Linked DNA regions of Homo sapiens. The protein of the gene in region 3 interacts with the protein of the main gene of each other region in a biochemical or structural test. Each region holds a gene or a part of one and is shown on either strand. Other genes may lie near its edges. The genes, in order: MED1, RB1, CHEK2, USP39, FHL3, PPP2CA and RNF8.

Region 1 (3,500 bases), on a different chromosome or scaffold from region 3:
GAGGCTGAGGCAGGAGAATCGCTTGACCCGGGGATGCAGAGGTTGCAGTGAGCCAAGACCACACCATTGCACTCCAACCTTGGTGACAGAGTGAGACTCCATCTCAAACAAAACAAAACAAACAAACAAACAAAAAAAAACTTAGCCTAGTTTTCCTAACCCTATCCAGTGAAGAAGTTTCTCTCTGAAAAACATTCCAGTCCCTAAAAACGTGAACAGTTTTCTGGTATAAGGATAGTTTTCCAGGCTTTTCCATGTTGCAAATAAATCTATCTCACTGCTCTAATTCTCCCTTACAAAACAAAGTAATTTATTAATAATCTGAAATCTCTTGATTCTTGACAGGAGAAGAGGTGCTCTGGTCAATGAATACCAGTATTATGAAAACTGGAAAACTAAATGTTTTGTCATAAATTAATAAATAAGCATACAGTATGTCAGTTGTTGAAAACTCTTTTTTTTTTTTTGAGATGGAGTCTCGCTCCGATGCCCAGACTGGAGTGCAGTAGCATGATCTTGGCTCACTGCAACCTCCACCTCCCGGGTTCAAGCGGTTCTGCTGTCTCAGCCTCCCGAGTAGCTGGGACTACAGGCGCCTGCCACTATGCCCAGCTAATTTTGTCTTTTTAGTAGAGACAGGGTTTTACCTTGTTGGTCAGCCTGGTCTCGAACTCCTGACCTCAGGTGATCGACCCGCCTCAGCCTCCCAAAGTGCTGGGATTACAGATGTGAACCACCACGCCCAGCCATGAAAACTCTATAAAATCTTGATGTACCAATAAAATTAGGTTTCTGAATCTGCAAAACTGAAAAGTAGACAAGCAAAGTCATGGTGACCAAACCAAGAGAGTGGTACCCAAAGAGAGGGCCTTATTAGCCACCTGGAATCCTTCTATCTCACAATGTCTCTCTAATGACAGTATCATTTACAGAACATATTTCAAGCTAGAATTTGGTTGCCTTAAGGAATAAAAATGACAACCTGGGCCAGGCACAGGGGCTCACACCCGTAATCACAGCACTTTGGGAGGCTGAGGCAGGTGGATCACAAGGTCAGGAGTTCAAGACCAGCCTGGCTAACATGGTGAAACCCCATCTCTACTAAAAATACAAAAATTAACTGGGCATGGTGGCGGATGCCTGTAATACCAGCTACTCAGGAGGCTGGGGCAGGAGAATCGCTTGAACCCAGGAGGCGGAGGATGCAGTGAGCCAAGATCCCACCACTGCACTCCAGCCTAGGTGACAGACAGAGATTCCATCTTTAAAAAAAAAAAAAAAAAATGAATCCGCCAGGCACGGTGGCTCACACTGTAATCCTAACACTTTGGGAGGCCAAAGTGGGTGGATCACTTGAGCCCACAAGTTTGAGACCAGCCTGAGCCACAGAGTAAAAACCTATTTCTGGCTAAGCGCAGTGGCTACGCCTGTAATCCCAGCACTTTGAGAGGCCGAGACGGGTGGATCACGAGGTCAGGAGATCGAGACCATCCTGGCTAACACGGTGAAACCCCGTCTCTACTAAAAATACAAAAAGTTAGCCGGGAATAGTGGCAGGGGCCTGTAGTCCCAGCTACTCGGGAGGCTGAGGCAGGAGAACGGCATGAACCCGGGAGGCAAAGCTTGCAGTGAGCCGAGATCGCACCACTGCACTCCAGCCTGGGTGACAAAGCGACACTCCATCTCAAAAAAAAAAAAAAAAAAACGATTTCTACAAAAAATATAAAAAACTAGCTGGGCAGCCGGGCACAGTGGCTCACGCCTGTAATCCCAGCACTTTGGGAGGCAGATCACGAGGTCAGGAGATGGAGACCATCCTGACCAACATGGTGAAACCCCATCTCTACTAAAATACAAAAAATTAGCCAGGCGTGGTGGCGTGTGCCTGTAGTCCCGGCTACTCGGGAGGCTGACGCAGGGGAATCTCTTGAACCTAAGAGGCAGAGGTTGCAGTGAGCCGAGATCGCACCATTGCACTCCAGCCTGGCCACAGAGCAAGACTCCATCTCAAAGAAAAAAAAAAAAAAACTAGCTGGACATGGTTACATGCACCTGTTGTTCCAGATACTAGGAGGCTGAGGTGGGAGAACCACCTGAGCCTGGGAAGTTGAAGCTGCAGTGAGCCATGATCGCGCCACTGCACTTGAGCCTGGATGATAAGACCTGGTCTCAAAAAAAAGAATGAATCAAAAATTCTACTAGTACAGGCTGGGCATACCTAATCTGAAAATCAAAAATCTGAAATGCTCCCAAATCCAAAACCTTTTTAGCATTCCCAATGATGCCACCAAGGATTTCACACCTGACCTCACATAACAGGGTCATAGTCAAAATGCAGTCAAAACGGCTGGACGCGGTGGCTCACGCCTGTAATCCCAGCACTTTGGGAGGCGAAGGCAGGTGGATCACCTGAGGTCTGGAGGTCAAGACCAGCCTGACCAACATGGAGAAACCCCGTCTCTACAAATAATATAAAAATTAGCTGGGCGTGGTGGCGCATGCCTGTAATCCCAGCTATTCGGGAGGCTGAGGCAGAAGAATCACTTGAACCTGGGAGGCAGAGGTTGCAGTGAGCCGAGATCGGGCTATTACAACCCAGCCTGGGCAACAAGAGTGAAACTCCGTCTCAATAAAAAAAAAAAACAAAAAAAAACTTAGTTTCACACACAAAAGTATTAAATATATTATTAAATATGTTGTATAAAATTACCTTCAGGCTATATCTATAAGGTGTTTATGAAACATAAATAAATTATGTGTTTAGACTTGGGTCCCATCCCCAAGATATCTCATTATATATTTGCAAATATTCCAAAATCCAAAACAATCCAAAATCTAAAACACTTCCGGTCCCAAGCATTTCATATAAGGGATATTCAACCTGTAGTATAGATACAATAGACTCCTAAAGTTGAAACCACCATGTATTCAGATGTTTTATGAAGATAGTATGAACACATCTACATGGGGAGCTTAGCGTATTAAGAATAATTATCTAAGCAAAACACTTTACCCACTTCACCACAATCCTTACCATGACTTGACGCACAAGCTTAATGGTTTCACTCCAGGGTCTATTTTGGTTAAATTTTGCATGGAGCCGTTCCAGGAGAGAACTCATCTTACTCAGCTTTTCTGACTCTATGATTTAAATCAGAAAACGTTATCAGTAACTGTTCTATCAAGACCATCCACAGTTTTCCTTGCAAAATAAATTCCCACACTTCATCACAGTAAGAATTCAGTTAAAATATTTTCCAAAATCATTTTACTTCAAAACATCCAAAGAAGACATTTTTAATGGCAAGATGACACACAAGTTATGGGTCTGATGTAAGGAATACCATACCACTGGACTGTTATCTATCCACCTTTTTTTTTTTTTTTTTAAAGACTAAGTTTCACTCTTGATGACCAGGCTGGAGTGTCAAACCCTGTCTCTACCGAAAATACAAAATTAGCCAGATGTGGTGGTGCATGCCTGTAATCCCAGCTACTTG
Region 2 (3,500 bases), on a different chromosome or scaffold from region 3:
TTAACTTACTGCTATATGTGGCCATTACAACCTCAAGAGCGCACGCCAATAAAGACATATGAAAAATGTTGTCATTCAGAAGTTTGCTAAAGGAAAAAAAAAAAGATTATAAAATACTTACTTCTATAAAAAGAAAAAAATTTTTTACTAAAAGTAAAAAATTTACCTAAAATTTTGAATGGATAATCGTTCTTCTTCCTGAAACAGATAATTTAAAAAAAAAAAAAGAAGTTGTTTAATTGAAACCTTATTTGTGTCAGCATTGAATTTTTTTTTTTTTTTTTTTTTTTTTTAGATGGTGTCTTGCTCTGTTGCCAGGCTGGGGTGAAATGGCACAATCTTGGCTCACTGCAACCTCCACCTCCCTGGTTCAAGGGATTCTCCTGCCTCAGCCTGCCAAGTAGCTGGGACTACAGGTCTACACCACCACGCCCAGCTAATTTTTGTACTTTTAGTAGAGACAGGGTTTCACCATTTTGGCCAGGATGATCTTGATGCCTTGACCTCCTGATCTGCCCACCTCGGCCTCCCAAAGTGCTGGGATTGCAGGCGTGAGCCACCGCGCCCGGCTGAAATTTTTTTATATTGTTTTTAACTTACTGATTTAAGCATGGATTCCATTACTCGGTAATACAAGCGAACTCCAAGTTTGTATCGCTACAAACAAACAAAAAGAAAAATAAGAGCCTGCTATTTTAGAAAATCACAATTATGAAATTTTTTTTTTTTTTGAGATGGAGTCTCACTGTTTTGCCCAGGCTGGCCTTCACACTCCTGGGCTCAAGAGATCCTCCTGCTTTGGCCTCCCAAGAGGCTGGGATTATAGGCATGTACCACTATACCCAGCTGACAATTACTAAAATTTTTTAAAAAGCCTTTTCTTAAAACATACTTCTCACCCTTCTTACAAATATGGCCGCCAAGACAACACAAAAGCTAGCTTGTCTAAAACTCACAACTTAAGTATTAAGTGGTGATTAACATTCCCAAGTAAATTAACAAGAGGGTAGGTCCAGTACCTGGATTTCCTTAACTCCATTTCAGTTTATATCATTCATACTAAAGATAGGTTATGTGCCCAGTACTATTTTAAGCACTTTATGTACCTTATATAACATTTCTCATGACCTAGGACATGTATTTTCAAGATAGCTGTCCAGGATTAAGAGGACAGTCTTTGTCCATAAATTTAGTAAAACTGACACAGGCAAAAATCAGATCAAACTGACCTTATGAGCAAGAAGTTTTAGCCAAATAACTAGTTCCCATTATTTGAAAGAATAACCAAATTTTAGAAATATAAACACACACCATATTATTTCCTTCCAAACTAAGAGCAAAAATCTCATATATAATCATGCACCGCATAACAACGTTTTTGGTCAATAACTGACTGCATATCTAACAGTAGTCCCATAAGATTATAATGGAGCTGAAAAATTCCTATTGTTTAGTGTAATGTAGTGCAATGCATTACATTACTCACATCTTTGTGATGATGCTGATGTAAATAAACCTATTGCACTGCCAGTCATATAAAAGTATAGTACATACAATTATGTACAGTACATAATACTTAATAATGAACATGTTACTGGTTTATGTATTTATTATACTATACTTTTTATTAGTTTAGAGCATCCTCCTTCTACTTGTAAAAAAAAAAAAAAGTTAAATGTAAAACACCCTCAGGCAGCTCCTTCAGGAGATATTCCAGAAGATAGCATCATCATCATAGGAGTTGACAGCTCTATGCATTTTATTGTCCCTGAAGACTTGGGACAGAATTTGGAGGCAGAAGACAGTGGTATTGTTAATCCTGATCCTGTGTAGGCCTAGGCTAATGTGTGTGTTTGCCTTTGTTTTTGGCAAAAATCTTTATGAAATTGAAAAAATTTTTAAATAGAAAAAAGTGTACAGAATAAGGATTATAAAGAAAGAAAATATTTTTGTACAGCTGTATAAGGTGTTTGTGTTTTAAGCTAAGTGTTATAAGAGTCAAAAGTTTCTTACAAACTGAAGATTTATAAAGTAAAAAAGTTACAGTGAGCTATGGTTAATTTACTACTGAAGAAAGAAAAAATGTTTATGAAATTAGTTTAGCCTAAGTGTAGTATTTATAAAGTCTACGATAGTGTACAGTCATGTCATAGGTAATATTGTAGGCCTTCACATTCACTTGCCACTCGACTCACTGACTCATTCAGAGCAACTTTCAATCCTGTAAGCTCCTTTCATAGTAAGTGCTCTGTGCAAATGTTCCATTTTTTATCTTTTGTACTATATCTTTACCTTTTCTATGTTTGGATATATTTAGATACACAAATGGTAACACATTATGTTACCATTACCTACAGTATTCAGTACACATGCTGTAGAGGCCTGTAGCCTAGGAATGAATAGGCTATATCATACAGCTTAGATGTACAATCGGCTATACCATCTAGGTTTGTACAGACACACTCTACCAGGTTCACACAACAAAATTGCCTAATGATGCATTTGTCAGAACATATCCCTGTTAAGTGGTGCATGGCTGTAGAATCAAAAAGAACCATTAAATATCAATGTTTAAAACACTGATGGCATCAAAATATAACCTCACTACACTGAAATAAATGTGTACAGTGGACTCCAGTTTTCCAATATATTTTTGTATATTATCCTCATTAATGCCACACAACAAAGCAGAGCAAATATAGAACCTGAATCTCAGAGAAGTTAAATGACATGTCCAAGATCAACAATGGTAGAACCAAATATAAACCCAGGGCTGTCACTCCATGGCCCATACTCTTACCTATTATATTAGCTTTAGATTTCCTGAAATAATATCACTCAATAATATCACTGACAAATGGCATGTATAGTCCCATTCACATTAGGATATGCATACATGAACAGTCATACATGTAGAAGTCAAAGCAAAATCAAAAATTTAATATCAAAGATTTCAATTTTTTTCTTAGTTGTATTTTCCAAAATTTCTACAATGGCTATGTGTTCCTTTATTACATAGTTTTTATAATGGGGTGGGAGGTAGTTTTCCATAAAGTTACCCATAAATAGCAGCATACACAGGCAGCAGGGATATAGTATCTGACAGTATTTTATACTACTAGACAAATACTGTTAGAGTATTTATACGAACTGGAAAGATGCTGCTTTTAATATTATTACTCTATAGTACCACGAATTACAATGAATTCAAGTTACCTGTGATCCAATTTCGACACAACCCTGTCCCACAGCTTTAGCAAATTTCTCTTTAAAGATGTATCCTATATCCTTCACTCTTTTCAGTATACTTTCTTTTGGATTCACTGTGCAGTTCTTTAGGAGGTAAAAACAGAAATCAATGTCGAGGATACTGTGTAATCAGAATTAATATTTTCTGCTCCATAATATATGACTTTTTAAATTGTTCATAAAAATGTGGAAACACTTCCATAATAACTAGGTAACCACAACTACTGAACATAAGCAGACAATATCATTTC
Region 3 (3,500 bases):
CAGGAGATGAGGAGGGCACAGACAGTGTGTATGCGAGTAGCTCCCACCTCTCTGGATGCTCACTTCTGCAGGGTTCGAGGATTTGCATTAGGAAACCCTGAGAGGTGGTCTGGTGCAGCTCTCCCCATCTTCAGCAAGGTGAAAGGAACATCCATAACTAGGAATGTGGCCTTTGAGTGCTGGCCAGAAGCCCAGCTCAGCCACTCACAGGTGGCATGTGCAGAATACAGACCCAGAGTTATCTGATTCCAGTGCCTCATGTACTTTCCCACCCAACTCCAGCCCCTCCTCCCACTGAGCCAAGCATACCACAGTGGGGAAAGGGAGAGGATACAGTAAAGTCCTCCACCATTTGGCAATTTGATGGATATGGAAATTTTACAACACTAGGTTGGGCATGGTGGCTCATGCCTATAATCCCAGCACTTTGGGAGGCCAAGGTGGGAGAATTGCTTGAGGCCAGGAATTTGAGACCAGCCTGGGCAACATAGTGGGACTTCGTCACTACAAAAAAAATTAAAAATTAGGCCAGGCACGGAGGCTCACGCCTGTAATCCCAGCACTTTGGGAGGCCAAGGCAGGCGAATCGCCTGAGGTCGGAAGTTTGAGATCAGCCTGGCTAACATGGTGAAACCCCTTCTCTACTAAAAATACAAAATAAGCAGGGCATGGTAGTGCACGCCTGTAATCCCAGCTACTCAGGAGGCTGAGGCAGGAGAATCGCTTGAACTCAAGAGGCGGAGGTTGCAGTAAGCCAGGATCACACCACTGCACTCCAGCCTGGGCAAAAGAGTACAACACTGTCTCCAAAAAAAAAAAAAAAAAAATTTAAATTAGCCAGACATGGTGGCATGCACCTGTAGTCTCAGCTACTTGGGAGGCTGGGGCAGGAGGATCACTTGAGCCTGAAAGTCATGGTGCAGTGATCATGCCACTGCACTCCAGCCTAGGTGAGAGAGCAAGACCCTGAGGAAGGAAGAAAGGAAAGAAGCAAGGAAGGAAAAAGGGGAGGGGGGACGAAAGAAGGGAGGGGAAAGGAATGGAGGAGAGGGGAGGGGGAAGGAAGGAGGAAGAAAGAAAGAAGGAAAGAAGGACCAGGCACAGTGGCTCACGCCTGTAATCCCAGCACTTTGGGAGGCCAAGGCAGGGCAGATCACTTGAGGTCACTCTGTTTTGAGTTTCTCAGTGTAGCTCCCCATTGCCATTTGACAGCAGCAAGCTCATCTGGATTCTACTCCGCACCCTCTCACGGCCTTACTTAGGATCTCAATTATCTTGCAGTGTCACTCTCAAAAGTCCATCTCTTGGCAGCCCTTCAGTGAAGCCAAACAGAGTGGTCACAAGCCTAATCAGGCCTGTATTTAAAACAAGTAATCAGGTCAGGCACAGTGGCTCATGCCTGGAATCCCAGCACTTTGGGAGGCCAAGGTGGGTAGATAACCTGAGGTCAGGAGTTCGAGACCAGTCTGACCAACATGGTGAAACCCCATCTCTACTAAAAATACAAAAATGAGCTGGGATGGTGGCAGGCACCTGTAATCCCAGCCACTTGGGAGGCTGATGCAGGAGAATCACTTGAACCCAGAGGTAGAGGTTGCAGTGAGCTGAGATCACACCATTGCACTCCAGCCTGGTAGACAAAAGCAAGACTCCATCTCAAAAAAGGAAATAAATAAATAAACATTGATTTTCTTCATGATGTCTACAATTATTCCAAAATATTAAATTAGCCAGGAACAGTGGCTCGTGCCTATTATCCAAGCACTTTGTGAGGCTGAGGCGGGAGGATCCCTTAAGGCCAGGAGATCAAGGCTGCAGTGAGCTATAATTGCACCAGTGCACTCCAGTTTAGGCAACAGAAGAAGACCTTGTCTCCAACAGTAAATAAAATAAAAATTAAATTGTAATATCCCTTGAAAGTAAACAGAAGAAATCCTCTATTTCAGGCAGTAAATATGAGGCAGAGAGTAGATGTAAGGGATGCTCCCAAAACTGGGCACTCTGTTAATGACAAAACAGAGACCAGAATCCACATTCCCAACACTCAGTTCAGCGACAGACCCACAAAACCATTTGGTTTTTTCAAAAACACTGAATTTTCCCAAAATAAAACCCAAACTATCACTAACAGATGTTTTAGATGGTCAGTCTTCATCCTTGTCTTCATTCAATGCTCATTCCTCCTTTCACTGCAAAAACAAAAGGTGGCTAAAAGAGTATTCCAGGGAGATCCTGCAACAGAGTTGAACTTCACCTTCTCCTTGGTTGTTAATAAGTTTTCTTTGACACAAAAAAGTACAAGAAAGATAGGCTATGCTTGCTCATAAATTTCAGGCAGATGCAAACCCTGTTCCCAGGCTCAACTGGCCAGCTCTATTTTTTGTTAGAGATGAACACAGCTCCTGTACCTCTACATTTAGACCCAAGAGTTTCCCTATTAGGACACATGAAAAGAGCCAAAAGACATGTTTCTCTTTTTCATCAAAATTAAAATCCCCACATGCAAAGGCACCCTTTGTTTCCAAACCCCTTTCCTCCAGGGTCCCACTGTTTCAAATCTGTGTGGTCTATTAAATGCTAAATCATCTGACAGATTTCTTCTGGGGAGACTGTAGTTTCCAGGGCAACATCCAAACACATATATGTCTTTTTTTGTTTGTTTGTTTGTTTGTTTTAAGTTTTTGTTGTTCTCAACCTGAGCTGGCCTGAGCAAAACTGTTAGGTGTAGAGGATTGGAACAGAGAACAGGGACAGTCTTCCCAGAGTCCCAGAAGTACGGGTCGGAGGCTGGACTGCCCAAGGAGTTCCTGGACCAGTAATCCCCAGAGAAACAGCATTTAGCTCAAGTAACAGCCTCTAGCTCAAGCTACCAGTTCTGTCCCCCATCTCCACAGAAAACGGATTGATACAGTTTGGCTTTGTGTCCCTACCCAAATCTCATCTCAAATTGTAATCCCCAGGTGTTGAGAAAGGGACCTGTTGAGAGGTGATTGGCTCATGGGGGCAGTTTCCCCCAGGCTATTCTCGTGATAGTGAGTGAGTTCTCACCAGATCTGACAGTTTCATAAGAGGATCTTCGCCCTTCACTTCCTTCACAAGCTCTCTCACCTGCTGCCATTAAGACATGCCTTCTTCCCCTTCCACCATGATTATAAGTTTCCTGAGGCCTCCCCAGCCATGTGCAGCTGTGAGTCAGTTAAACCTCTTTTCTTTGTAAATTACCCAGTCTTGGGCAGTTCTTTATAGCAGTGTGAGAACAGACTAATACACAAACCAAAAAAAAATTCATAGAAAGGGGCATGTCTGTGCTGAATGGAACTGCTCATTACAGAAGACCAGACATCTATCAGAAAAACCTGCCCAATGCCGTGGCTAATTCTAAAACTAAAGATTAACCCAGCAAAGCCACAACATACTTCCAACTCTTGGCAGTTCCAGATGAGGTCAGCATTTAAAAATGGCAGCCCCAACCCCTAGCAGGAGCACAGCGGTAATACAGA
Region 4 (3,500 bases), on a different chromosome or scaffold from region 3:
GTTTCTCCATGTTGGCCAAGCTAGTCTCGAACTCCTGACCTCAGGTGATCCTCCCGCCTTGGCCTCCCAAAGTGCTGGGATTACAGGTATGAGCCACTGCGCCTGGCCGAAGGCAGTAATTTCTTGGCCAGTACACATACTATTTCCTGTCCCTCTCTTTTTTTTTTCTTGAAACAGAGTCTCACTGTTCCCCAGGCTGGAGTGCAGTGGCGCGATCTCGGGTCACTATAACCTCTGCCTCCCGGATTCAAGCGATTCTCCCACCTCAGCCTGCCAAATAGCTGGGACTACAGGCTTCCACCACCATATCTAGCTAATTTTTGTATTTTTAGTAGAGACAGGGTTTCTCCATGTTGGCCAGGCTGGCTCAAACTCTTGACCTCAGGCAATCCGCCTGCCTTGGCCTCCCAAAGTGCTGGGATTACAGGGGTGAGCCACTGTGCTCAGCCTTCTGGGTGTCCTTCTCTTCCTCAATGTTCCCGTCTTGATCTTACCTGAAGGACAGCGTTGGCATAATCATTGGCCTTTATGTTATTCAGTCCCACAATACCCGGCAGGTAAGTGGTACCATCATATGCCCGGGACAATTTGGCTTGCTTGTCCAAGTTTGCAATTTGCTGCTTTGTGAAAGTGGGCTTCAACACATACTGCAAAGCAAAAGAAAATGCTAAGTTGTTTAAGAGCTGAGTTCACAAGAAATGTCTGTAACAGTAATTTCTACAAAAACAAAAAACACTTGGCCATGAACATCCCACCACACACAGAAAAATAGTCCGAACCAGTAGGTGTAAAGATTGAAGTAACACGGAGTAGATCCTCTCCCATGGCTAATCTACAAGGGGATCTCTGTGTCTATCCCAAAATCACTGAATCCCAGGTCTTTTCGCCGACCTCAGGTCTGGTCAACTCATGAAAACTGACTGCCAGAAACCATACAATACTCAAGTTCCTAAAGGCAGTCTAAGTCTCAGATAGAACCTCCTGGGAGCAGCACATGGACCTAGCTTTGGAGCAGGAGAGTTTCCTCCACTCTGGGTGGGAATGAGGATCTCCATGAGTCCCTGGTACTGGAAGAGCAGGATCAGACTCTTCCCAGGCACAGAGTTACCACAGTCATTATGTCACAGACTGGACAGAGATCATCGCAAACTCACTTTGAAACACTGAATTTAGCCCAGTTTTTCCCTCTATAAATACTGACCATAACTTTTTTTTTTTTTTTTAGATGGAGTTTTGCTCTTGTTGCCTAGACTAGAGTGCCATGGCATGATCTTGGCTCACTGCAACCTCCCCCTCCCAGATTCAAGCAACTCTCCTGCCTCAGCCTCCCAAGTAGCTGGGATTACAGGCATGTGCCATCATGCCCGGCTAATTTTGTATTTCTAGTAGAAACGGGGTCTCATCATGTTGGTCAGGCTGGTCTCAAACTCCTGACCTCAAATGACCCACCTGCCTCGGCCTCCCAAAGTGCTGGGATTACAGGTGTGGGCCTCCCCACCAAGCCTGTCCATAACTATTTTAATCTCAACTATTAATAATAGGCTTATACAACTTTTACAAGTAGAAAAAGCAGTATTTCAAAGACTAAATACCACGTTTTCCTTAAAAATAAACAGAGCATGAACAACTTAGGCAATGCAGTGAGACTCCATCTCTACAAAAAATTTTAAAAATGTATCTGGGCATGATGGTAACGCCTACAGTCCTAGCTACTTGGGAAGCTGAAGTAAAAGTATCACTTGAACCCATGAGGTCGAGGCTGCAGTGAGCTGTGATGGCACCACTGCACTCCAGCCTGAGCGACAAAGTGAGACCCTGTCTCAAAAAAAAAACCAAAAACAAGAACAGAGCACATGGCACCATGAATACACCCCACGTGCTGAAAAGGAAAATAATAATCAAAAGCCCAACACTAATCAAACCCAAGAGGACTTTCCATGCTCAGTACAATGAGTGTCTCTTGGCACAGGTCACAAACTAGAGCCCACAGATAAGATATCTGTGGCTGGATGCTCTGGCCACGGCGTATGTTAAAAGCAGCCAGGAGCCGGTGTGCAGCTTGGTAAATACTGTCCTACACCAGGACCAATTCATATCCCTACTTCACAGTGTAGAAGAATAATTTCACAAAAACACTTTAAACCCCATCAGAATACACCCATATTTCTTCAGTCCTAGCCCTCAATGTTACAAGTAGAAATGACAGTTAAGTTACAGACTACAGGCTGCAATTATGAATTCTGACCTTACTCAGTTTCCCCAGTTCTTCCCAAAAGAGAAAGCAGCCTCTCGATGCCTAAAGGGACTGAGATTCTTCCCTGTCCTCAGGTGGGGCAGTCCCCTGGGAGCCCTGGGATGGCTCATTAAAGAATGGACCCCAAACCAACCCTCTTAGACACACACCGTGATATCCTCCAATGAGGAATCGATGATCTCATAGTTGTCTGGAAGGCAGTAAAACTTGAGGGTGTGGAGGTTGAGGAAAACATGGTGGCTAAACTGGACACTGTGAATGTAGGCGTGAGACTTCAAACCCCGGCCTGTAGGGAAGGGTGAAAAGCTGTAATAGAAGGGCAGATACTAGAACACACAGATCAGGTTTGCTTTTCCTTTCATTATTTTCTACCGGAACATGTTAATATCCGCAAAAAACAAATATTATGCCATTCATAAAATGAATCCTCCACATGAAGTTCTCTCATAAAAAAATTAGCAAGAAAGACTAGCACATTAGTTACTTCATTCTCTAAATGGCCTAAGACATTGATTAGGGAAACAAATTTCACTATTTTTTAATATATATGTAAAATATATATAACCTATATATATATCTATATATAATACATATAACTATATATTCATACATAGTTTCCTATATACATGAAACTAGAAATATCTATGCATATATGTGTGCATAAATACACATAAACATAAATACATACATATCCTATGACAGTCCATCATCACTCAGTCCTGGATTTCCAAATGCCCATATTCAGGACAATGCTTTATCTATGTAACTTTTTTCATGTTGCTACTCCTTTCTAGAATCTCTCTCCCTTAACCATTCAAATTCTATGTCCTGCCAATTCAAGTCCCACCTCAGCTCTTCCATGAACTCAACATAAACACTCCAGCTAACATTGATTTTTGCACATTCAACTCCTATTGCACTTATTTTTACTCCGTGCCACAGTCCAGCAGTAATCTTTATGATCTAACAGAACTCACTGGTTGTTTTACATGTCAACCTTGACTCCTTATAAGCTCCTTACGAGAGCAAAGAATACAGTTTTTATCTCTTTTTTTGAGACAGGGTCTTGCTATGTTAGCCAGGTGGGTCTTGAACTCTTGACTTTAAACAATCCTCCTCCTCGGCCTCCCAAAATGCTAGGATTAGGTGTGTAAACCACTGTGCCCAGCTGTTTTTACCTCATTTGAATCCTCCACTATACTATGTACATGGCATCTGCTTGGTGTGAATGAGTTGAAATGATAAA
Region 5 (3,123 bases), on a different chromosome or scaffold from region 3:
TGCCTTTTTTGGCAAAAAACGTGCGGCCGCGAGAGGATCCTGGGCCGCCCTTGCTAATCCTTGGGAAGAGGGGGAAGGGGGCTGAGAGGGTCTGGGCCCAGACTGGGGATCGGAACCAGGTCCTTGCTCTGCGGGCTTTGGGCAGGGCTGTTGGCGGAGGAGACTATTCGTACCAGCCAATTAAGGAACCCCACCGCCACCCTGGCTTTCATCTGGAACCTCCCCCAAACCCCTCCCTTCCCTACATGAGGGAAAAAGCCCTCTGCCAGCAGGGAGGCAGGACGAGCTCCAGAGGGAGGGTAGCTGTGGCGGGGATCCCCTTCATGGGGAGAGACTTCCCACCCCATGGCCCGGCCCCCCTCCACCCCACCCTGCAAGGATGAGGTCTAGCAGAGATTCTGAGCCTCCCAGTCTGCAAAAACCCTTCCTTCCCCATTATACCCTGAACACACACACACACACACACACACACACACACACACACACACGGAGGCCCCTGCTTCCTCACACCGCTTTATTGCAGAATCTGGAAGGGGGATGAGCCAATCTCACCCCTCTGCCCATCTATGGGCAAAATGGAGCTGAAATAAAATGAGAAGACACTCGGTGGCGACCTGCTGGGCAGCACCCTGTACCCTAGGGCCCCTTATCAGTGGGCTCCTGATCTGCTGCCCCCACAGCCTCAACCGCGGGGATGGGGTGGGGCAGGTCAAGCCTGAGAACAGTCCACTTTCAAGGACTTCCCAGGCACCCATAGGAGACCTGAAACCTATAAAGAGAAGTCTAGATTTAAGGGGGCCTAAGTCCCAGAGTCCAGGTTTGGAGGGCTCGGGTCTAGAGCCCTGATTTGGGGAGAGGACTCAGTCTGGGAACCCAGACTGCAGGGGAGAGGGTGAATTCTGGAGTCCAGGTGTGGGGAGGGGGCTTGACTCATGGAGGCTCTGTAAGAGCCCAGGTTTGGGGCCCTGGGTCAGGGAGTACCAGTTTGGGGATGCTGGAGTGGGGAGACAATCCTGGAGCCCAGAAGGAGACCCATTTTTTTTGGCGGGGGGAGCTGAGTCCCAGAGGTGGTTTAGAAAAGGAGCCACAGTCCTGGGCCCGTGGTATGGGAAAGCCTGGGTCCAGGAGCCCTGGCTTAGGGCCCTGCCTGGCTACAGCCCTGGCAGAGCACTTGGTCTCCATCCGGTACGAAGCCCTGGCCCACCAGGGAGGTAGAGCAGCGGGCGCAGGAGAAGCAGTTGTGGTGCCAGTGTCGGTCTTCAAAGGACACATACTTGCCTCCACCGAGTCCTGGAGGGAGGCTGGAAGTTAGCTATGCAGATGTGGGGATGGTCCGGCCCTCAACCTCACCCAATACCACATCCCACTCCCTTGCCTGCACCCTACCCACTCCGTTCTTTGACCCTTGTCCCACCTACGATGGGGCGCTTGCAGCTGCTGCACTTAGGTGCAAAGAGTTCTCCAAAACAGGCCACACAGTAGGGATCTTCATCCCGGGAGGTGAACTGCTGCCCTGCCAGGGGCGTCTGGCATCCGGTACAGACCAGACATTCTCGATGCCACGGCTGATCACGGTATGTCACTCCACCCTGTGTCAGCGTCTGTGGGGGCAGCATCCATTAGTAGGTATGAGTGGGGATTCCCACCCCACAACAGGCCTCACTCACCCCCACCTGGCTGGCCCAGCCCCCACCTTGCTGCAGCGGGCGCAGCGAGGAGCAAACTTGTTCTCATAGCAGGGCACGCAGTAGTGAGCACCCTTGTCGGGCACAAAAGAACGGGAGCCCAGTGGCTGTTCACAGCCACTGCACAGGAAGCAGTGCTCATGCCATGTCTGGCCTCCATATTCCAGCTTCCGGGACCCTGTGGGGAACAGGGGTCCCATTTAGAGGTTGTGTCCCATGCTCCTGAGGGCCACCCTCTGTAACTTCCCCAGGAGTCTCCACTCCTCTCTCAGCGTGAGCAGGGTGGTGTCCGTGCACATGCAGCAAGAACCCCCCCGCCCTATGTATATTACACATGCTAACCTCTCCCCAGACACCGGACATGATGACCCAGCTAGACACGAGGGTTTTGGCCTATGTTAAGCCCCCATATGTCCCAGAGATGACAATTTCAGCACACATCAAGCCTCCATGTAACAGTCATGAAGTCTCACTAAGAGCTAAGCCCTCATATAACAGATGTGATGATTTTAGCACTCACATGGGACCCCACATGTACCAGGCAAGTAAGTATCTGCCCACACAAAGTTCTAATGCCCTGGGCATGACAGGTTCGGTACATGCTAAGCCCTCGCATCTCCTCGGCACACCATTCTCCATAGGTGCTGAGTCCCAGCATTTCTATTAGGCATGCAGGTCCCCACACATGTTAAGCCCTCTGTTTATCTGCTTCTGCATACATTAAGACCCAATGCAACAAGCATGACAGTCTCAGCACACCTCTAGTTCCTACCTGTACTAAACATGCAGATATTCACACATGCTAAGCCCCCAAGTATGTATCACATGTGTCAATCTGCCTGTACATAGTAGCCCCCAGGAGTATACCAGGCAAACAGATCCCGTATATACTAAATTTCCAGAAACATGCTGTGTATGCAGGTCTTTACACAGACCAAGTCTCCATGTATCAGACAGACACATGCAAAGACCCTACGCAGATGCCAGTTCTCACACAAGATGAGCCCCTGAACACATACCAGGCATGACAGTCTCCCCACAAGCGGAGCACTGCGAGGAAAACGCACTGCAGTAGCAGTCATTGCAGAGCAGCTCACTGTCCTGGCAGGTGAAGGGTTCATCGGCTAGTGAGCGCTGGCAGCGGCAGCAGCGGAAGCAGCCCTCGTGGAAATGGCGGTCTTCATAGAACAGCTCCTGTGGGGAACACAGCAGGGGCACTGGCACCCAGGCCTCATGGACCCATCCTTTGCCCCCTTCCACTGGTCACCACCCACCTCCTGCCTGGCCTGGCCCTCTCCTTACCCTCGAGTCATGCCCGATAAGCTGCTGGCACTCAGCACAGGTGTTGGCAAAGGTATTGTCATAGCAGGGCACACAGTAGGGGCCGCTGTCTGTCTGGATGTACTTGCGTCCATACAGGGACTCGTTGCATTTTGCA
Region 6 (3,500 bases), on a different chromosome or scaffold from region 3:
GGCTTCACCATGTTCTCCAGGCTGGTCTCGAACTCCTGACCTCAGGTGATCTGCCTACCTCAGCGTCCCAAAGTGCTGGGATTACAGGCATAAGCCATCACGCCCAGCCTATTTTTTCAAACAATCTGACTGAGGCATTCATTCTCCTCCTTTTGTTTTGATTCTGTACCATCCCCTTACTCAGAACGCAGACGCCTATGATTTTTAAGTCCAAAACCTGAACATATGCATTCCTAAATGTGGAATTTTGTTTTAACATTCAGATAGAGAAAATAACTGGGGGAAAAAAAACTTTCAAGAGGACTGTCTTACCCATTTCAACATGCCCCAACATAAAATTGAAATTACCTTAAGAGCTACAAGCAGTGTAACTGTTTCAACTGAATAATATCCTCTGTCAACATAATCTCCCATAAACAAGTAATTTGTATCTGGTGATTTGCCACCAATTCTAAACAGTTCCATGAGATCATGAAATTGCCCATGCACATCTCCACAGACAGTAACTGGACATCGAACCTCTTGCACGTTGGATTCTTTTGTCAGGATTTCTTTAGCCTACAGATGGGAGACAAAAATAAGGCAATACATTTGGCATTAAACAATATTAACAAAGATTTGTTTACTTACACTTAATGTAGCTTAAGGGGCAGACTCAGTCTAAGATAAAATTGCAGGCATTTATGAACCCATTAAAATAAGTGAGATATGATTATAATCCATTAGCTATCTCACCCTGTTACCTAGGGAAAAAATATGCATTCCTATCATCAATACCAGGAGTTTTTTAAAAACCTATCAAATAGCCATCTAATTAAATACTAATTGTTAGCTGTCACATAAAACCAATGAAAATCGAACAGGACATTCAGGTATCTACTTCCTTACCTTCAGAGTTCTAACTACAATGCAGCACTCAAAGATTCTTTTTTTTTCTTTTTTTGAGACAGGGTCTCATTTTGTCACCCAGGCTGGAGTGCAGTAGTATGATCATAGCTCACTGTAGCCTGGATCTTCTTGGCTCAGGAATCTTCCCACCTCAGTAGTGGGGACCACAGGCACACGCCACCATGGCTGGCTAATTTTCACAAACTTTTTTGTAGAGACGGGGTCTCACGTGATCCTCCACCCTCATCCTCCCAAGGGCTGGGATTACATGCATAAGCCACCTCACCTCAGCCCTGTTTGACTTTTTAAAAACATGTTTTTGGCCAAGCACTGTGGCTCATACCTGTGAGAAAATCATTTGCTCAACCATCTGTACCAGCCCCATGCTAGCAACTGGACATATAGTGGTGAACAAGATGGCTCATTCCCACTACCGTAGAGGGGAGAAGGACCACAAACAAGTAACCAAGCCAAAAGTACACTGTGTTAAGTGTCACAAAGGAAAGGGAGAGGGAAACTGGGAGAGACCACTTTACATAAGATACCAAAACAAATTACCAGAGAATTGTTGCTAATGAGCCATGACAACCACAGATGACAAGGACTGGGTTCAAAGCATTGGTATGCAATCTTAGCTGCACATTAAAAATCCCAATGCCCAGCCAGGCGCGGTGGCTCGCACCTGTAATCCCAGCACTTTGGGAGGCCAAGGCGGGCCGATCACTTGAGGTCAGGAGTTTGAGGCCAGCCTGGCCATCATGGCGAAACCCCATCTCCACTAAAAATAAAAAAAACTAGCTAGGCATGGTGGTGCATGACTGTAGTACCAGCTACTTGGGAGGCTGAGGCAGGAGAATTGCTTAAACTTGGGAGGTGGAGGTTGCCGTGAGCCAAGATCGCATCACTGCACTCCAGCCTGGGTGACAGACCAAGACTCTGTCTCAAAACAAAAACAAAAACACCAATGCCCATTCCTTCCCCTAATAAAGTCAGAATTTTGGAGACTGGAATCAAGCCATCAATAATTTTTAAGCACCCCCACCCCTCCTTTTCCCAGTGTGCAACCAAGTTTAAGAACCACTGCACTTTGGGACGCTAAGGCGGGTGGATGGCTTGACCCCAGGAGTTCCAGACCAGCCTGGAGTACAGTGGCATGATCTCGGCTCACTATAACCTCCACCTCCCAGGTTCAAACGATCCTCCTGCCTCAGTCTCCATGAACAATTGCGACCACAGGTGTGCACCACTATGCCTATTTTGCACTTTTTGTAGAGGTGAGGTTTCACCATGTTGTCCAGGCTGGCCTCAAACTCCTGAGCTTAAATGATTTGCCCACCTCTGCCTCCCAAAGTGCTGAATTACAGGCGTTAGCCACTATACTGGCCTGAGATACCTATTAAGAAATATGTACAACCCATTATTATCAAATCCTACTTCATTCTGAAATTTTTCTCTGCAGGGTAATTCCAACTTCCCATTTACTATCACTAAAAAACACAAATTCACTAGGCTTATTCCATTACCAAGTCTGTCTGGCATTAATACCACATCTAGTGTTTTTTTAACACCTATCATATATTAATGAAAATAACTAAATGAAATAAGTCCTACACTGAGAAGAAACTTGCAAAAGTTATTCAGAAGTTTTAAAAGGGCATGACATAAGCAAACAGATGGTTATATACCATGTAAATCTTGCCATGATGTAATTTTCACATTTAAAGCTATCAGAAGTTAAATGTTAATATACTTCTGTGAATATCTGTTTATCTGCAAAGCTATTCTCTGTATTAATAATAAAAAGTTGACTTTCAGGACTGCCTGAAGTTCCTTACTACAACTGACTCAAATTTTCTATTCAAATCATGAAGGAAAATTAAGTCTAAATGCTATTTGTTGCTTTTATTTCAATTTAGGCAAATCACACCGATAAACAGTGTTATCTATTTTTTAAACTATACAAATTAGTAATACATTCTTGTAAAAAATTTCGGCACAGATAAAATGAAATGTTCCCTTTGAGCACCCTACACAATCCCACCCCCTTTGGGCAAAGTTACCAATAAAATTTTGATGTACAGATGCTCCTCAATTTGTAACACAGCTGCATCCAGATAATCCTATCGTAAATATAATCGAGTCAACAGTGTGTTTTCAGCTTACAATGTTTTCAAGTTATGATATATTTATCTGGATGTAGTCCCATCATAAACTGAGGGGTATATTGAATAGCTATCATTTTCACACCATCATTAAGTCGAAAAATTGGGGAGTGTCTGTATATCCTTTAAAACTTTGTTTACAAAGTTTACACACATACTGTATGTCTACAGAAACAATAGTTTTCCTTTGCATTTTTAAACTAGAAACAATATTGTTCAGCAGCCTGCTTTTCTAACAATATATAATAATACATAACATTTATTGAGACAGCTGGTTATTTTCTCATAGTGGAGGCAGAGTATTCCCCTGACCAATTACAATGGCAGAGGGGTGTGAAACTACAGCAATATATATCCTCGTATTTTCTCCTCTGTATACATATGCAGGCACATTTCCTGAGAGAAGATACTATGAAGTGAACTTAACTAGTGTATCTAGTAGTTTGGTTT
Region 7 (3,500 bases), on a different chromosome or scaffold from region 3:
ACCTTTATTCCATTGGGCTATCTTACCTACCTGCTGCTTTTTTCAGGGGAGAGGGCAGTTAGGGAAGGCGGCCACCAAATGGACTAGGGCCTCTAAAACTAACCCAACATTGGTGGCCATCCAAGTCAACTGAAGAACTTTCACTGTGTCCCAGAGTCTGCTTCTATAGGTTTGGCTTGGAGCCCAGAAATGTGCTTTTCTTTTTTTCTTTTTTTTTAAAGCCACCCAAGTGATTCTGGGAACAGTATTTAAGAACTAGTAAGTAATTAAAAGCTATTCAGAACTGGAAGCAGCTTTTATGAAATAATCAGGAGGAAATGGGAATCAGCAGAATTAGATAGTCATTTTTATTGAAATAAAAAAGATTTTTAACCTATTTGTTCTACAAATCACATATTACATGCTCAGACAATGCTGCCTGAACCCTGCCAGTGTTTTCTGGAAGAAGGCACACCCAGGAGCTAACAGCTCATTCATTGTGACTAAATGCCTATGCTGAATGTCAAGAGGTTCCACATATATGAAACATAATTTATGAGTTCTCTCATGCTTAAGTATAGCTTATACTTTAGAATCTCACCTCAAATTCTTTTTAAAAGAAGGTGGAGTAAAGGTAAGTATTTTTGAAAAGATATTATTCAAGAACCAAATTTTAAAATGTGTGATCTCCTGACAAAAAAAAGCAGTTATGTCAAAAGGCCTGGGTCTTCAACTTGACACACTAATTAGATATGTGTATTTTAACTTTCTCATCTATAAAATGGGAAAATATGGCCGGGCGTGGTAGCTCATAATACCTGTAATCCCAGCACTTTGGGAGGCTGAGCCGGGTGGATGGCTTGAGCTCAGGAGTTTGAGACCAGCCTCGGCAACATGGTGAAACCTCATCTCTACCAAAAATACAAAAAAATTGTCGGGCATTGTGGCGCGCGCCTATGGTTCCAGCTACTCAGGAGGCTGAAGTGGGAGGATCACTTGAGCCCAGGAGGCGGAGGCTGCAGTGAGCTGAGATTGCACCACTGCACTCCAGCCTGGGTGACAGAACGAGACACTGTCTCAAAATAAAAATAAAAGGAAATGGGAAAATAGGTGCCCCCTCCTCCCTCAGTGTTCATAAGAAAATAACAGGTATGAAAAGCATTCAGAGAAGTTTTTTGAGCTGTATATAAACACATCTTTTTATTTTCTTTTCCACTCAAAGCAAAGACTGGCAGACTGCTTAGGGCAGTGAAGGTCTGGACCCATTTCTAACTATAGTCAAATTCCCTGAGAACTTATGAATCACTCGGTTTAAAAAGATGTGGTAGTTTCTTGGAGATTGGAGAGGAAGGTATTATGTGATTTAAACAGGAAATCAGTTATAAAAGACCATTATAAAAACAGTTTTTATAATGGTCTGGTAAAGAACAGCTTTCAAAAGTATCAGCATGGTGGAACAAAAAACCACCACTGCATGAGAGTGGCATGTCCCCCAGGCATGATGGTATAGAACCATGACCTAAAAGTATCACTTTTTTTTGAGACGGAGTCTTGTTGCCCAGGCTGGAGAGCAATGGCACGATCTCAGCTCACTACAACCTCCACATCCCGGGTTCAAGCGATTCTCCTGCCTCAGCCTCCTGAATAGCTGGGATTACAGGCATGCGCCACCACGCCCGGCTAATTTTGTATTTTTAGTAGAGACAGGGTTTCTCCATGTTGGTCAGGCTGGTCTTGAACTCCCTACCTCTGGTGATCCGCCTGCCTGGGCCTCCCAAAGTGCCGGGATTACAGGCGTGAGCCACCGTGCCCGGTCTAAAAGTATCACATTTTAAGCTAATAAATGCATGGCCAAGTATCCCATGCAAAATGATAGAGTGTTTTCCTGTCTCAGGAGAGGGTGCAGGGTACTCAGTGATCCCTCAGGGATTTCCAACTAGCAGAACCACATTCTTTTTCAATTTCAAAACAATGTCTGAATATTAACTTAATAATGTTCCAAATGGGAAACATGCCTACTCTCCCACCCTAGAAAATAAACAAGCTCAAAAAATAAAATTCTAAAAAGATTGAATTAATTTTCATCTAATTCTTTCCAAAGCTGTTTGTGCAACCCTCAAGGAGATCAAGGCAGGCACCCTGTCATGCTTACAATACTGTATGACTGTTAGCACTGTTAAGGTTGGGAAGTAGGTTTACGATAAAAGGATAAATTCCCCTGAACAAATTCCTATGTGATTTGCTCACTCTTTCCAATGAGATTTGAACCATCCTGACTAAATGGCACTAAACTACTAATCATAATACATAAAAGGTAGAAGACATAGTAGGTTTTAAAGATGCAAAAGAGCACACAAAAAAATAATCAAATGAGAGTAGTCAGGTTAAATTAAATAAATTACAGGCAATCTTTTAGGAGAATTTTAGTCCTGTTGAGCTTTACCTTTTCAATAAATTGATATGTGTTGTTGATTGTTAAACTGCACATTCTCAACCTGGCCTAAAATGCTTAACTGGAACATTCCCCAATTGTTTCTGGTTGGCTACAGCTCAGGAACATTGCGGTAACAGAGGCCTTCACGGGCCCTGGTGGCCAAGTCATACCTCACATTTTCCCTCTGCTGCCCTCACCTTTCTAGAAGTGGAGCCACTTCCCCAGAGAGCCTCTTAACTGCTAAAGCTCCATTCCATCTTCACCAGAGCAACTTCTGCTCAGACAAAGATGTAAGTTTTCATGCTGAGGTCTGGCATGTTTGTAAGGCTCCAAATCTCTGATCTGATGGTGTGAGCAGCTGCCACCTGCTCTGTTTACAGACTGGGGATGCCACAGAGGTATGGGCTAAGCAGCAGAGGCAGCCAGTGGTCATGTGATGCCTGTTTGCTCCCCACTCCACAGCCCACTATAATCTTAGTACTATGGCAAAGTTACCTCCTGCAGAGCCTGGGCCAGCTGTTGCTTCAGGTCCTTTTCTCCTTGGGCTATCTCCAAACCCTGCAAAGCCAAAACAAAATGGAAGGTTTCTCTGCAGGGAAAAGAAAAAAAGGAACACAATCCAGCAACAAGCAGAGCAGACCAGCTAGTATGAGCATCTGGAAACAACAGGGGTGAGGGAGCAGGTGGAAAATCTCCTGTTTTACTTCAAGCTGTTGGCAGTAAAGAATTTGAGCAGTTATCTGCTCAAATACTGCACACTTCAGGACTGTCGGCTTTAAGCCACCAATTGGGTTGTTCTGGAAATACTATGGCCTAACAGTCCAAGCCTCCTTCATGGACTAACGCCATGATTCCCAAAAGGATGTAAACTGAGAACTTCTGAGCCCCCAAATACCTAAACTCAGATGTAATTCCCAGTGCTGGCACTCACAACATCTAGCATGCTTCTTTTCCCTCTACTCTGGCCATCTTGTCTCTCATTCTGAGTCTTTACCACTTCAGTTTATACACTGCTCCTCTGCTCCTCCTCTCTCCTTGCCTGAGCTTATGCTGTATTTCCTCATCAGCCCCCTCCAATGTGGAAGCT

Evidence for each region.
Region 1: the proteins of CHEK2 (region 3) and MED1 form a complex in vitro, tested with the Homo sapiens proteins (one study listed by BioGRID).
Region 2: the proteins of CHEK2 (region 3) and RB1 form a complex in vitro, tested with the Homo sapiens proteins (one study listed by BioGRID and IntAct).
Region 4: the proteins of CHEK2 (region 3) and USP39 form a complex in vitro, tested with the Homo sapiens proteins (one study listed by BioGRID).
Region 5: the proteins of CHEK2 (region 3) and FHL3 interact in a test that uses a peptide from one of them, tested with the Homo sapiens proteins (one study listed by BioGRID).
Region 6: of the proteins of CHEK2 (region 3) and PPP2CA, one has a biochemical effect on the other in vitro, tested with the Homo sapiens proteins (2 studies listed by BioGRID).
Region 7: of the proteins of CHEK2 (region 3) and RNF8, one has a biochemical effect on the other in vitro, tested with the Homo sapiens proteins (one study listed by BioGRID).

The regions. Positions count from the first base shown.
Region 1 is NC_000017.11:39,444,764-39,448,263, forward strand, and holds part of MED1 (mediator of RNA polymerase II transcription subunit 1), read right to left. Parts: intron 3,142-3,500; coding exon 3,035-3,141; intron 1-3,034. UniProt on the Homo sapiens protein: Component of the Mediator complex, a coactivator involved in the regulated transcription of nearly all RNA polymerase II-dependent genes.
Region 2 is NC_000013.11:48,376,751-48,380,250, reverse strand, and holds part of RB1 (retinoblastoma-associated protein), read right to left. Parts: intron 3,334-3,500; coding exon 3,217-3,333; intron 658-3,216; coding exon 601-657; intron 417-600; exon of another isoform or gene 377-416; intron 199-376; coding exon 167-198; intron 87-166; coding exon 10-86; intron 1-9. UniProt on the Homo sapiens protein: Tumor suppressor that is a key regulator of the G1/S transition of the cell cycle. The hypophosphorylated form binds transcription regulators of the E2F family, preventing transcription of E2F-responsive genes.
Region 3 is NC_000022.11:28,689,821-28,693,320, forward strand, and holds part of CHEK2 (serine/threonine-protein kinase Chk2), read right to left. Parts: intron 1-3,500. UniProt on the Homo sapiens protein: Serine/threonine-protein kinase which is required for checkpoint-mediated cell cycle arrest, activation of DNA repair and apoptosis in response to the presence of DNA double-strand breaks.
Region 4 is NC_000002.12:85,622,686-85,626,185, reverse strand, and holds part of USP39 (ubiquitin carboxyl-terminal hydrolase 39), read right to left. Parts: intron 2,561-3,500; coding exon of another isoform or gene 2,541-2,560; coding exon 2,404-2,540; intron 648-2,403; coding exon 495-647; intron 1-494.
Region 5 is NC_000001.11:37,996,270-37,999,392, forward strand, and holds the end of FHL3 (four and a half LIM domains protein 3), read right to left. Parts: coding exon 2,988-3,123; intron 2,880-2,987; coding exon 2,705-2,879; intron 1,864-2,704; coding exon 1,694-1,863; intron 1,602-1,693; coding exon 1,415-1,601; intron 1,291-1,414; coding exon 1,136-1,290; 3' UTR 501-1,135; downstream 1-500. UniProt on the Homo sapiens protein: Recruited by SOX15 to FOXK1 promoters where it acts as a transcriptional coactivator of FOXK1.
Region 6 is NC_000005.10:134,205,574-134,209,073, forward strand, and holds part of PPP2CA (serine/threonine-protein phosphatase 2A catalytic subunit alpha isoform), read right to left. Parts: intron 559-3,500; coding exon 349-558; intron 1-348. UniProt on the Homo sapiens protein: Catalytic subunit of protein phosphatase 2A (PP2A), a serine/threonine phosphatase involved in the regulation of a wide variety of enzymes, signal transduction pathways, and cellular events.
Region 7 is NC_000006.12:37,370,983-37,374,482, reverse strand, and holds part of RNF8 (E3 ubiquitin-protein ligase RNF8), read right to left. Parts: intron 2,972-3,500; coding exon 2,909-2,971; intron 1-2,908. UniProt on the Homo sapiens protein: E3 ubiquitin-protein ligase that plays a key role in DNA damage signaling via 2 distinct roles: by mediating the 'Lys-63'-linked ubiquitination of histones H2A and H2AX and promoting the recruitment of DNA repair proteins at double-strand breaks (DSBs) sites, and by catalyzing 'Lys-48'-linked ubiquitination to remove target proteins from DNA damage sites.